Regions from separate parts of the Homo sapiens genome. Here region 2 is reported to be linked to region 1. The links are microRNA targets in miRTarBase. Many come from high-throughput screens and were not tested one by one. Region 1 holds a microRNA gene; the other region holds the end of a gene's coding sequence.

Region 1 (5,071 bases):
TGGGCAGACCACTTACAGATGACTTAAACCCTAAAATCACCCAAAGCAAGTTTACTAGGCCTCCTGGGGTTCAAAGTGACCTGACCGGGCTACTCTAGCCACACTGCCTCTGGGGTAGTCCTGCTCCTCAAGGAGCAGTTAAAAAAAAAAAAAAGTGACCTGACCAAGGGACTGGACTGCAGCAGGGTGAAGGGGTGTCCAGGCAGGAACCACAGCACCCAGCACTGACAGCTCCTCAGGCACGTTGCCAGGAGCACTAAGCATCTGACTTAATCTAAGCTTCGTTCCATCTCCACAAGTCCAGGACTTCAGGACCACGCACCTTATCTACAAATGACACCAAGGCTCCAAGATGCTAAATACCATTTCCACGGTCTCCTGGTAGCGCGTGGTAGAGCCTTAAGTCCAGATAGGCTGGACTCCAAGACTTGTGCACTGGCAGAATGCAGAGAGCTCTGGTAACTGCAGTCTCATTCCACAAATAATTTCTGAAAGTGCTAATTAAGATGCATCTTAATTTTTGCTATTTTTCTTGCTGTTAATCCAAAAGTATAAATCCTCCCTCCCTAAACTGTAAAATTAAGCTTGTTGAATGGAGGGTGCAACTACTGTCACTAACTGTAAGCCACCTAAAACTCAACAAATTTAACAGAAATAGAATCTTCATATACCAGTGATTATCCAACAGTATTTTATTCTACTGAAAAAAAATCTCTTGGGCCTTTCTAAAAGAGTTTCACATTGGCCGGACTTGGTGGCTCAGGCCTGCAATCCCAGCACTTTGGGAGGCCAAGGCGGGTGGACCACGAGGTCAGGAGATCGAGACCATCCTGGCTAACATGGTGAAACCCCGTCTCTACTAAAAATACAAAAAATTAGCCAGGCACGGTGGCGGGTGCCTGTAGTCCCAGCTACTCGGGAGGCTGAGGTAGGAGAATGGCGTTGAACCCGGGAGGCGGAGCTTGCAGTGGGCGGAGATTGCGCCTCTGCCCTCTAGCCTGGGCGACAGAGCGAAACTCTGTCTCAAAAAAAAAAAAAGAGTTTCACACATACAGACTTACTTTCTCAAGTAGCACAGAAAACCACCAACAGCAATCCCAATGCTCTTTACATAGACATTTAAAAAGCTGTTTTATACACACGAAAAACAGGTCCAAACTGCTTGAAGAAATGCTTTTTTTTTTTTAAACCAAGGAAGGTCTTGCTTCTGGTTTTCTTTAGAAATCTGAGGTTTCACAAAACAGGTTTCTATGACTTTAACTACACATAAAAATAAATGTGTTAGTTTGGTCTCCAAAGCTCTTGAATCCATTAGAATAAACTATTCCCCCACCATGATGGTCCTCACCGTGGATTTCATCCCTTTTTTATCCTCAACTGTACTCACAAATACAATGTTAACTTTGCCTGCTGCATCCTGCCTTTGCCCTTCATCTCTTTGTGCTGCTGGAGCTGTCCATAGTGATTAGGGGCAGAAAGAGTATGAAACAGATCCAGCTTTCTTGAAAATAGACTCCCTTACCTGTCTTTATGCTAGCTTACCAAAAAGAACGGAGGCTTCCCTTTCCCACCCTGGCAGACCCGTCTGCACAAAGCTCTGGGAGGCAGCAGAATATCTCTAAGCCCCAGCCTCAAGATACATCATCTTACAATTTGTGCTACTCCTTTAAAGCTCCATTCAGAGCAGGACACTGTTTTCACAGGAGAGGAAGTCATTTTATGCAAGTTTTCTGGAAGAAAAGACACTACAATTAATGTTTGGTGAGAAGATGTGTTGAAGAGGACACAGGAACTTTCAAAAATGTCCAGTCATATCTTGAGCATCTCTGCAAAGCTTGAAAACATCATACAGGTCCTGGAGCCAAATTGAAAAATCTCCAAAAGCAAAAGAAAAAAAGTGTCACGAAAAAAAACATATATGTATTCCATTTTCACAGAATGTTCTGCCAAACCCCATGCCCCAGGACCACACACATTCAAGACAACACCCCATACCTCATACCGTGTGTGCAAGCAGGACTTCCCCAGGCCTGAAGCAAGGGCTGGGAAACGGCAGCTACGAGCCCAGCTACAAAGCCGGTGGGGCCACAGTGGCCACACAGCTGGCAGCCGCCTCCAGTGAGCTCTCTACAGGAAGCGAGTCTCTGTACCTAGGGTGCCATTCTTCCAGCCCTCATCTCCTCTCCAAGTACTTAACTACCAAGTCTATTTTAGCATTGTTTACTACTGATGTTACCACGCCATTTAGGATTACTCAATTTTAGGTATCCTGTCCTACGAAATACTTTTACACAAGCTATCAGGAGATAATGTGGTCCTTACCAGTTTCCTGCTTATCAGTCTTCCCTCTCTGCTAACAGAATGTATTCTCTTCCATTTTCCTGTTCTAAAAAAACCTCCCACCACGAATTCCAAAAAAAAAAAAAAAAAGAAAAAAAAAAGCCTCCATAAGAATTTATTTCAAGCTCCTGGTTTTCATGCCCCCAACGCCATGGCCCAAGGGTGCATAGCCCCACCGCAGTCCTCAACCCTTTCTCAATGTGATGGCACCACCATTCTTCAGTTATCACAGTACTGTACCTTTCAGATATACAGCATCGGTACCATGATAACCGAAAAAGGACAGTTCAGTCTCATATCTACCTGAATATTCCCTGCCACCCAGCTCACCAACCTCAGATGGGCCATATGATGATCTCCAAGTATGCAAGCACGTGAAAACACACACACACAATGTCAGTACTCAAATAGGCTGTTTTCCGCAACCTCATTTACTATCAATAGGAAATGCTTCTTTCACAGTGTCATTTATAATTCAAGTCTTCTGACACTGTTCTTTTTGAAGAGTGCTTGCTTTTACACCACAGCAGTCAACTTCTGCTAACATTCAACAATCCAAACTCACTTCTACAATTCCCTACTAGTCCAGTAGCATTAATACAAACTCTGTCTTTTGTCATCTTTCCCAGTGAGCTCATATCCTATCATCTTAGACAAAAAGCCTGTTTTCCCACAGCAAGTTAGACAGCTAAGGAAAAGAATGATTAAAAAAAAACTAGTAATAAAATCCAAGCTACACCAAACCAGGAGTTTACCTCTAACCTGGAAACAAAATCTAAAGCACGAACAAAATAACTGCCCAATAGAGATCATGCAATTTCAGTTACCTGGGATTAAGGAAGGAAAGAAATGCAAAAATCCTTGTATGTAAAAATAAACACCAGGTTAAGAGTGACAACTGCTGGCTGATTTGAGGATAAACACAAGCAGGTGTTCATAGTGCAGGCTCTGTGCAGCACAACACCCTTTGTCATTTTGGGCAATGAGAAAATTACACTGGACAGAATAACGAGGTTGAAAAAGAATAACTTACGTGTAGGGAGAGAGAGGGCCTAGCAGGACTTTGGAAACATCCTGCTGTCCAAGGGTCATGAGTAGTAGCGCCAGGCTTTGGTTGGTCGAGTCTACGCATCCACCCTGTAAACACAAATTAATAATTGTACAAACCAGAAAATGGAAAGCCAACAAAAGAGAGGAGGAAAAAAAAAACCAGAAACATACACTCATAATATCAAAATCCAAAGTTCAAGCAACAATAAAACAGAATACAGGTCTTATAAGAGTAATCATTGTATCAACTAACTGTAGAGGGTTAAACTAACAGTTAATTAGAGCAACTGTAATAGTTGAGACTATCAGAATGAGACTATCAGATTCAAATCTTCTTAAGTGAATCTAGTAAAAAAAAAAAAAAATGAAACTTTCCCTTTATCATTAAAGCAGCAGCAGGAGGACATCATCTTTATTGAGTATATGCAAAAAAAAAAAAATCTTAATCAGTTCTAGAAGATGTAGAGTTAATTCCAAGGGTTAAGTGGATGACGCTCATATTTATTGAATCTGTCACAGAACAACACAGTCTATCTGACATGAAACGGCCTTTTCATGGCCTTACTTTTACACTTATTCAAATACATTCAGGAAACTGCTTGCCATACTCTATTAACTTCTCTCCTTTATCTCTTCCTGAGTTCCTTAAAACTGAAGACTTGTTAAGGTTAGATCCCTTTATTCTTACTACTTATGTATAAAATTATGCCTTCCACCCCCTTTTCCTTCCCTTTCTTCCAAATTAACAAGCAGAACAGACTTCTCTTCAAACACTTTCTCCTGAGGTACAACTGCTTAGGTTGCCTTTCTTCTTTTGTTTTTCATTTTCTCAGCCATTTTAACTGTTTTGCCTCCACTAGACGCATACATAAGCATACAAACACGCTTTCTGATCATTCTTTCTGGAATAACTTTAAAACATATTGTACATAGTCAAAGAAGGATGACCTTGAATTTCTACATATTTTGCACAGGTCAAAATTAGAAATCCAGTCTGACCAAGGCACGTTACTATCCAAGGCTAGACTGAACAGGATAGGTGGCCAGCAGTGTGGTTCATATGGCTACAACTGCCCCTGCCTCCTTTTTAAGGCATGTAGGGTAGGAAATAAATCCATTTTCAGATACAGACACTCTGAAATTCTCTGGCTGTCAGATATCATTTAGTAGCCCTAATAATGGTGAAGGAAATAAGGATTGATCTTACTGCTAGCCTTTATGAAAATCTATTGCACGTCCCTAAACTACCTTAGTTAATAAAGGACAGAAAACAACATTTAGATCACATAGCAAATTCTAGGACAAGGAGAGTTCCTTTTCCTTTTCTACCCAAAAAGAAAAACCTGACCCATGGAAAATATGACGACCAACAAAACTGTTTTATAGATCTTGCTCCCTTTCATAAGACAGCCTAAAATTAAAGTGTTCTCTTCAGTCTCTGCTTCCTATCACTGTTGTTATTTCACCATTCACTGGACCAGTATTTTAATGTAATAGATAGCTAAGGTCCCTGTACAGGACATCATGGAGGAAGTGGTAGGGGCTATCACCCTACCTATGCTGGGGGGAGGTGTCACCTGCCAGATACCTGAGGAGGGCTTTAGGACTCAGGACTACTTGAGCCAGCCCTTGAGAGATGAGCAGGGTTTGGGGAGGAAGGAAGAACAGAATGATGGGGAAA
Region 2 (5,066 bases), not on the chromosome of region 1:
GTCTTCCTTCTGTATGTGTCTGTCTCCATGTCTAAATTTCCCCTCTTTATAAGGGAACCTACCGGTCATATTAGGGGGTACTCTAATGACCTCATCTTAACTTGAGCATCTGTAGAGACCCTATTTCCAAATAAGGTCACATTCACAGGTACTAGGGGTTGGTTAGACTTCAACATTTTGGGGAAGGATACAATTTACCCAATAATGGGTGTGAAGGAAGGAAACAAGCCTTTTCTCCTCTCTCTTCCTCCACCCTGCATCTCCATTTCCCTCAGACAATGACTGATGTGGTGGGTAACCCAGAGGAGGAGCGCCGAGCTGAGTTCTACTTCCAGCCCTGGGCTCAGGAGGCTGTGTGCCGATACTTCTACTCCAAGGTAAGTACATGGGGTGCACGGGGGAAATTGACAAAAGGCACGGGGTTTTCACCCCTGATGGGGGTCAGTGGTGTTAGATACCAACTTCTGGTTTGTCTCATCTTCCACTCCCTTCACTATTTTCTCCTTAGGTGCAGCAGAGACGACAAGAATTAGAGCAAGCCCTGGGAATCCGGAATACATAGGGCCTCTCCCACAGCCCTGATTCGACTGCACCAATTCTTGATTTGGGCCCTGTGCTGCCTGCCTCATAGTATCTGCCTTGGTCTTGCTTGGGGCGTTCCAGGGGATGCTGTTGGTTCAAGGACAACACCAGAATGAAGAGGGTCTCACAAGACACCTGTTATCCTCTTCTTTCACCCTATCTCTTCCCACCCCCAGCTTCCCTTTGCCCCACAAAGTTCCCATGTGCCTGTACCCTCCCCTGGTCTACATAGGACCTCTAGATAGTGTTAGAGAGAGAACATGTAGTGGTAATGAGTGCTTGGAATGGATTGGGCCTCAGGCCAGGTGGTCTTCAAGGGGACCAGCTAACTGATCCTGCCCTTCAGAGACCCAGGAGTTGGGAGCTTTCGCTCCTTCTCCAAGACTCAGGCCTGTGGGCACTCTATAAGCTAGTTGATCTTGGCTCTCCTGATAACAGAATCCAATTTCCTTCCTTCCCTCCACAGGTTTGGAACAAACTCTCCCTTCACTTGTTGCCCTGTAGCACTACAGAAACCCTGGTTCTTGGGCTCCACTGAGCCCCAGGTCAGTCCCCAGCCCTCTGGGTTGGCCTGCTGTCAGTGCTTCTCTCACTCCTTAGTTGGGGTCCACATCAGTATTGGAGTTTTGTTCTTTATTGCTCCCTCCCAGACACTCCCTGTGGCTGCCCTTTGTGATTCCCTCAGATCTGCCCTAATCCCGGGCATTTGGGTGGGGGAATCTTGCCTTTCCCTTTCAGAGCCCCAGGGATCTCATCTGGGGAACTGTCATTGCCAGCAGAGGCTGTTCCTTCCTGCTGTTTGGAGATGTGACTCATTCATTCACTCACTCCACCCTGCCTCTGCATCCCTTAATGGAGAAACGGGCCTAAAACCAAACGGGTAAAAAGCCCTGGGCCATCCCTGTCTTCCTGTCCCTTGTCTGCCCAGTTGACACCTACTGGTGACTTCTAGGGCACTGAGGAGTGAAAGCGCCTAGGGCTGGAGAATAGCGCTGAGTTGGGTTTGTGACTCTTCCCTCTCCCTGCCTCACAGGATTGTGACTCCCCAGCCCCTGCCCTCAAAGCTTCAGACCCCTCAGGTAGCAGCAGGACCTTGTGATCTTGGCCCCTTGGATCTGAGATGGTTTTTGCATCTTTCCAGGAGAGCCTCACATTCTTCTTCCAGGTTGTATCACCCCCGAGTTAGCATATCCCAGGCTCGCAGACTCAACACAGCAAGGGTGGGAGACAGCTGGGCACAAAGGGGGAATTCCGTTCAGCATGGGCTCTAAACCCACAGAACTGACAAAGCCCCTGCTTCCCCACCCCCTCCTCAGGCTCCTGCGAGCACACCCCCACCCCCAAATCCCTCCCTGTTCTACACTGGGGACAGCAGAATTTTCTCCCCGTCTTCCCCTTCCTGCCATTTTCCCTCCCTTGAAAGGTTGACACTGGACAACCTTGGGGCAGCTGAGCCCTGGCCGCCTCCTGGCTGGAACCATGAGAAGGAAGCTCAGTACTTCCCACAGTGTCCCTGTTGATAACTGTTTTTATTAACTGAATTGTTTTTTTCATGGACCAAACTTTTTTTTGTACTGTCCCCTTATTGATGTTACCCAGTTTTAATAAAAGAATCTTCTGAAGGATGGGTCCTCCTACCTACTGTGAGAGAGCTCTTCCCTGAGCTCTTCTTCCTTCAATACCATTAGCCACGCTTGTAGTGTTTGTTCATTTTATTTGACAAGTATTTATTGAGCACCTGCTATGTGCTAGTTGTGATGCTAGACACGGGAGATAAAGTGGAAAATGAGATTTCTACTTTTGTGGACCTCAGGGTCTTACCTTAAGAGATTGCTGTCTGCCCCAGTGGTCCAAGCAGCCTAGTTGCTGGTTGGGATTATTGGGCTTCACCACTGGATCTTAAGAGCCCTTTCCCGACTTGCTAGGCAGGTACTAACAGGTTGGTGGCAGTCATTTTCCCCCTTGTCCATCTGAGCTCCCCAGAGCACTTGTTGGCTGGAGTGAGCCATAGATGCCCGTGATCCCTTAGGTTTGACGAACCTGAGCCGCCTTTGGAGGAGTTTCACTTCTTCCCCAGGGCTTCTGTTTAGATGTGGGCAGGATCTGGACGACCAAAGACATTTTTGCTTTTTGTGCCTGCTACTCTTTTTTTTTTTTTTTTTTTAGACGGAGTCTCACTGTTGCCCAGGCTGGAGTGCAGTAGCGCGATCTTGGCTCACTGCAAGCTCTGCCTCCTGGGTTCACGCCATTCTCCTGCCTCAGCCTCCCGAGTAGCTGGGACTACAGGCGCCTGCCACCATGCCCGGCTAATTTTTTGTATTTTTTAGTAGAGACAGGGTTTCACCGTGTTAGCCAGGATGGTCTCGATCTCCTGACCTCGTGATCCGCCCGCCTCGGTCTCCCAAAGTGCTGGGATTACAGGTGTGAACCACCGTGCCCAGCCTGTGCCTGCTACTCTAAGGTTCCGCTTTCATGGTTCAAATAAGAGTTCAGTTTTTGTTTGCCTGTTTTGAGATGGAGTTGTGTTCTTGTTCCCCAGGCTGGAGTGCAATGGCGCGTTCTCGGCTTACTGCAACCTCCGCCTCCCAGGTTCAAGTGATTTTCCTGCCTCAGCCTCCTGAGTAGCTGGTTCTTAAGAGCACCATGGAAGTTCTGTGTTGTCATCCTCATACTGTAGACAACTAGCCCCTCCTTGGCAGAGTTTGGAAGACAGCTCAGGAGGGATTCCCATTAGCAATCACTTGAAACTCGCCTGCAGTTCTGCCTGCTTCCCACTTGGAGGCTCATGACTTTTTTCCTTTGTCATTATGCAAGAATGGGGTTTGGAATATAGGATCAGAGTACAACCACTTTCCAAAGTTGTAGTTTAAAAATTATCCTTTGCCTGTTTGGATGGGAACATTCTAGTATTGCCTGTTCAATATATGTAATCAAACCCACCAAAAAATCCAACCACTGTTCCTACTCCGGAACTTGGGGTTTATCAGACTTGAGAAGGGAAAGCAGAGAGGAGTGGTTGGGCCGATAACTAGGAGTGGAGAAAATTGATGTCAAGGACATTGAAATGGCATCTGTTTTTACCCAGGCTAATTACATGTGTAATGAATGGCTGATGAACCATTATTAATTTCAAGCAAATCTACAGTTTGCTCTTGGGAAAAGAGCTCTAGTGATACAGATAACTTCCTGTGATGAGCCGATTCTGAATCTCTGCACCCTCTTTATTCCCATGTAAATGAGCACATTCTTAGTCTCCACACTATCTAAAATGATTGTAGGGGCAAAATGAGAGAGGGAAGCATTTAGGCAAAAACAAGGGGGTTATTTTATGCATAAACATCCATTCTTTGGGGCTCCCATCATTTGTGCCAGGGACAGAAGCATCCTTTCTCTTCCATCACCCGTAATCAGTGCTCCCAGCTGGCAGCCTGGCACTGGAGCCTTCATCTCAGTGCCAGTGCAATAAAGGAGTGGTCTGTGGGAGGCTGTTTCTGTATTAGGTATAACATTGTGCTAAGAAAAACAGCCAACTACTGATTTCATGTCCGTTTCCCTATGGGAAATTACTGGCCATGGAAGGAGAATATGGTTGGTTTTTCCTGGGCAGTCCCCGGAACTTAGAAAGCCATTTCTCCCCAGTCTTGACCTCCTGCCTGCTTACTCCTACCCATGGGTTGCACACAGACTCCCCTGTAGCCCAGTGCTTGTTACCAGTTGCTGGCCAGCAACAGCCCAGGGGGATGGCAACACCCACCTAGCCGTCTGCCAAGCCAGGAGGTCAGCACATGAGCACACAGTGGTGTCTGCCCTCTAGGCCAAGGTGCACAGTGTTAGGAGCCTCTTGCTCCACTCTCCAGATCAGCCTGGAAACCAGAGCTTCCCTCGTCTTAGACAAACAGATGGCCGTGGGCGATGCAGAGCCCTGAACTGCTGAGGGTGCTCCTTCCATTCTCGCCCTTCCCCAAAAAACATACACCAAACTTACCCCCAATCACAGCATCTGAGACCACAAAGCCCCACGGACACAGCTGCCCCGGGTACTGCCTGCCTTCCCCTTTTCTGGCCTCTGCAAACTAGCCATTCACCTGATGAAGCCCCTGGGGCAGTACCTTGGAAACCCCTGAGAGGAGGAGTTGAAGGAGGCTCAAAGCCTTTCAAGGACAGTGTGCACTCTGCCTGCCTCCTATTCTCTCCTGTCCTCTTAAGCCCAGAGTCTACAACAAAATTGTGTACCGCAATTCTCAGAGCTCTCTAACTTTAACCTTTCCCACCTTCCCTAGAACACATTTTTGGGTGGGGATCATCTGAGAGGCCCATGGATGAGTCCCCAAGATGACCTCTGTGGGTGACCAAGACAATCTTGTCTTTTGAGGCACCTGGAGTCTCTCATCCTTTTTTGAGCTGGGCTGTCCTCAAAGCAGGCCCTTACCTCTTATGTGGCCTCATCTTTAGAGGTGGGAAGTGGGCCCACATCCCCCACCCCA

Evidence for each region. The annotated mature microRNA hsa-miR-101-3p reads UACAGUACUGUGAUAACUGAA and lies in region 1 at 2,559-2,579, opposite strand. An mRNA with a match to its seed (bases 2 to 7 or 8) in the 3' UTR can be bound and repressed. Matches are read on the target gene's strand: a 7mer-m8 pairs with bases 2 to 8, a 7mer-A1 pairs with bases 2 to 7 and ends in A, and an 8mer does both.
Region 2: the mRNA of SMARCD1 is a reported target of hsa-miR-101-3p. Seed matches in the 3' UTR shown: 7mer-m8 at 2,154-2,160.

The regions. Positions count from the first base shown.
Region 1 is chr9:4,847,853-4,852,923 of GRCh38, reverse strand. It overlaps MIR101-2 (microRNA 101-2), which reads right to left and starts at 2,627; the gene lies at 2,549-2,627. It overlaps RCL1 (RNA terminal phosphate cyclase like 1), which reads right to left. Exons shown (of 9, transcript NM_005772.5): 8 at 3,374-3,477. It overlaps LOC124902113 (a long non-coding RNA gene), which reads right to left and starts at 2,557. Exons shown (of 2, transcript XR_007061402.1): 1 at 1-2,557.
Region 2 is chr12:50,098,439-50,103,504 of GRCh38, forward strand. It overlaps SMARCD1 (SWI/SNF related BAF chromatin remodeling complex subunit D1), which reads left to right. Exons shown (of 13, transcript NM_003076.5): 12 at 276-377; 13 at 509-2,269. The coding sequence ends at 562. Among named protein-coding and RNA genes, the nearest start is that of GPD1, 3.0 kb to the right of the region's middle. RefSeq lists an enhancer at 4,580-4,629.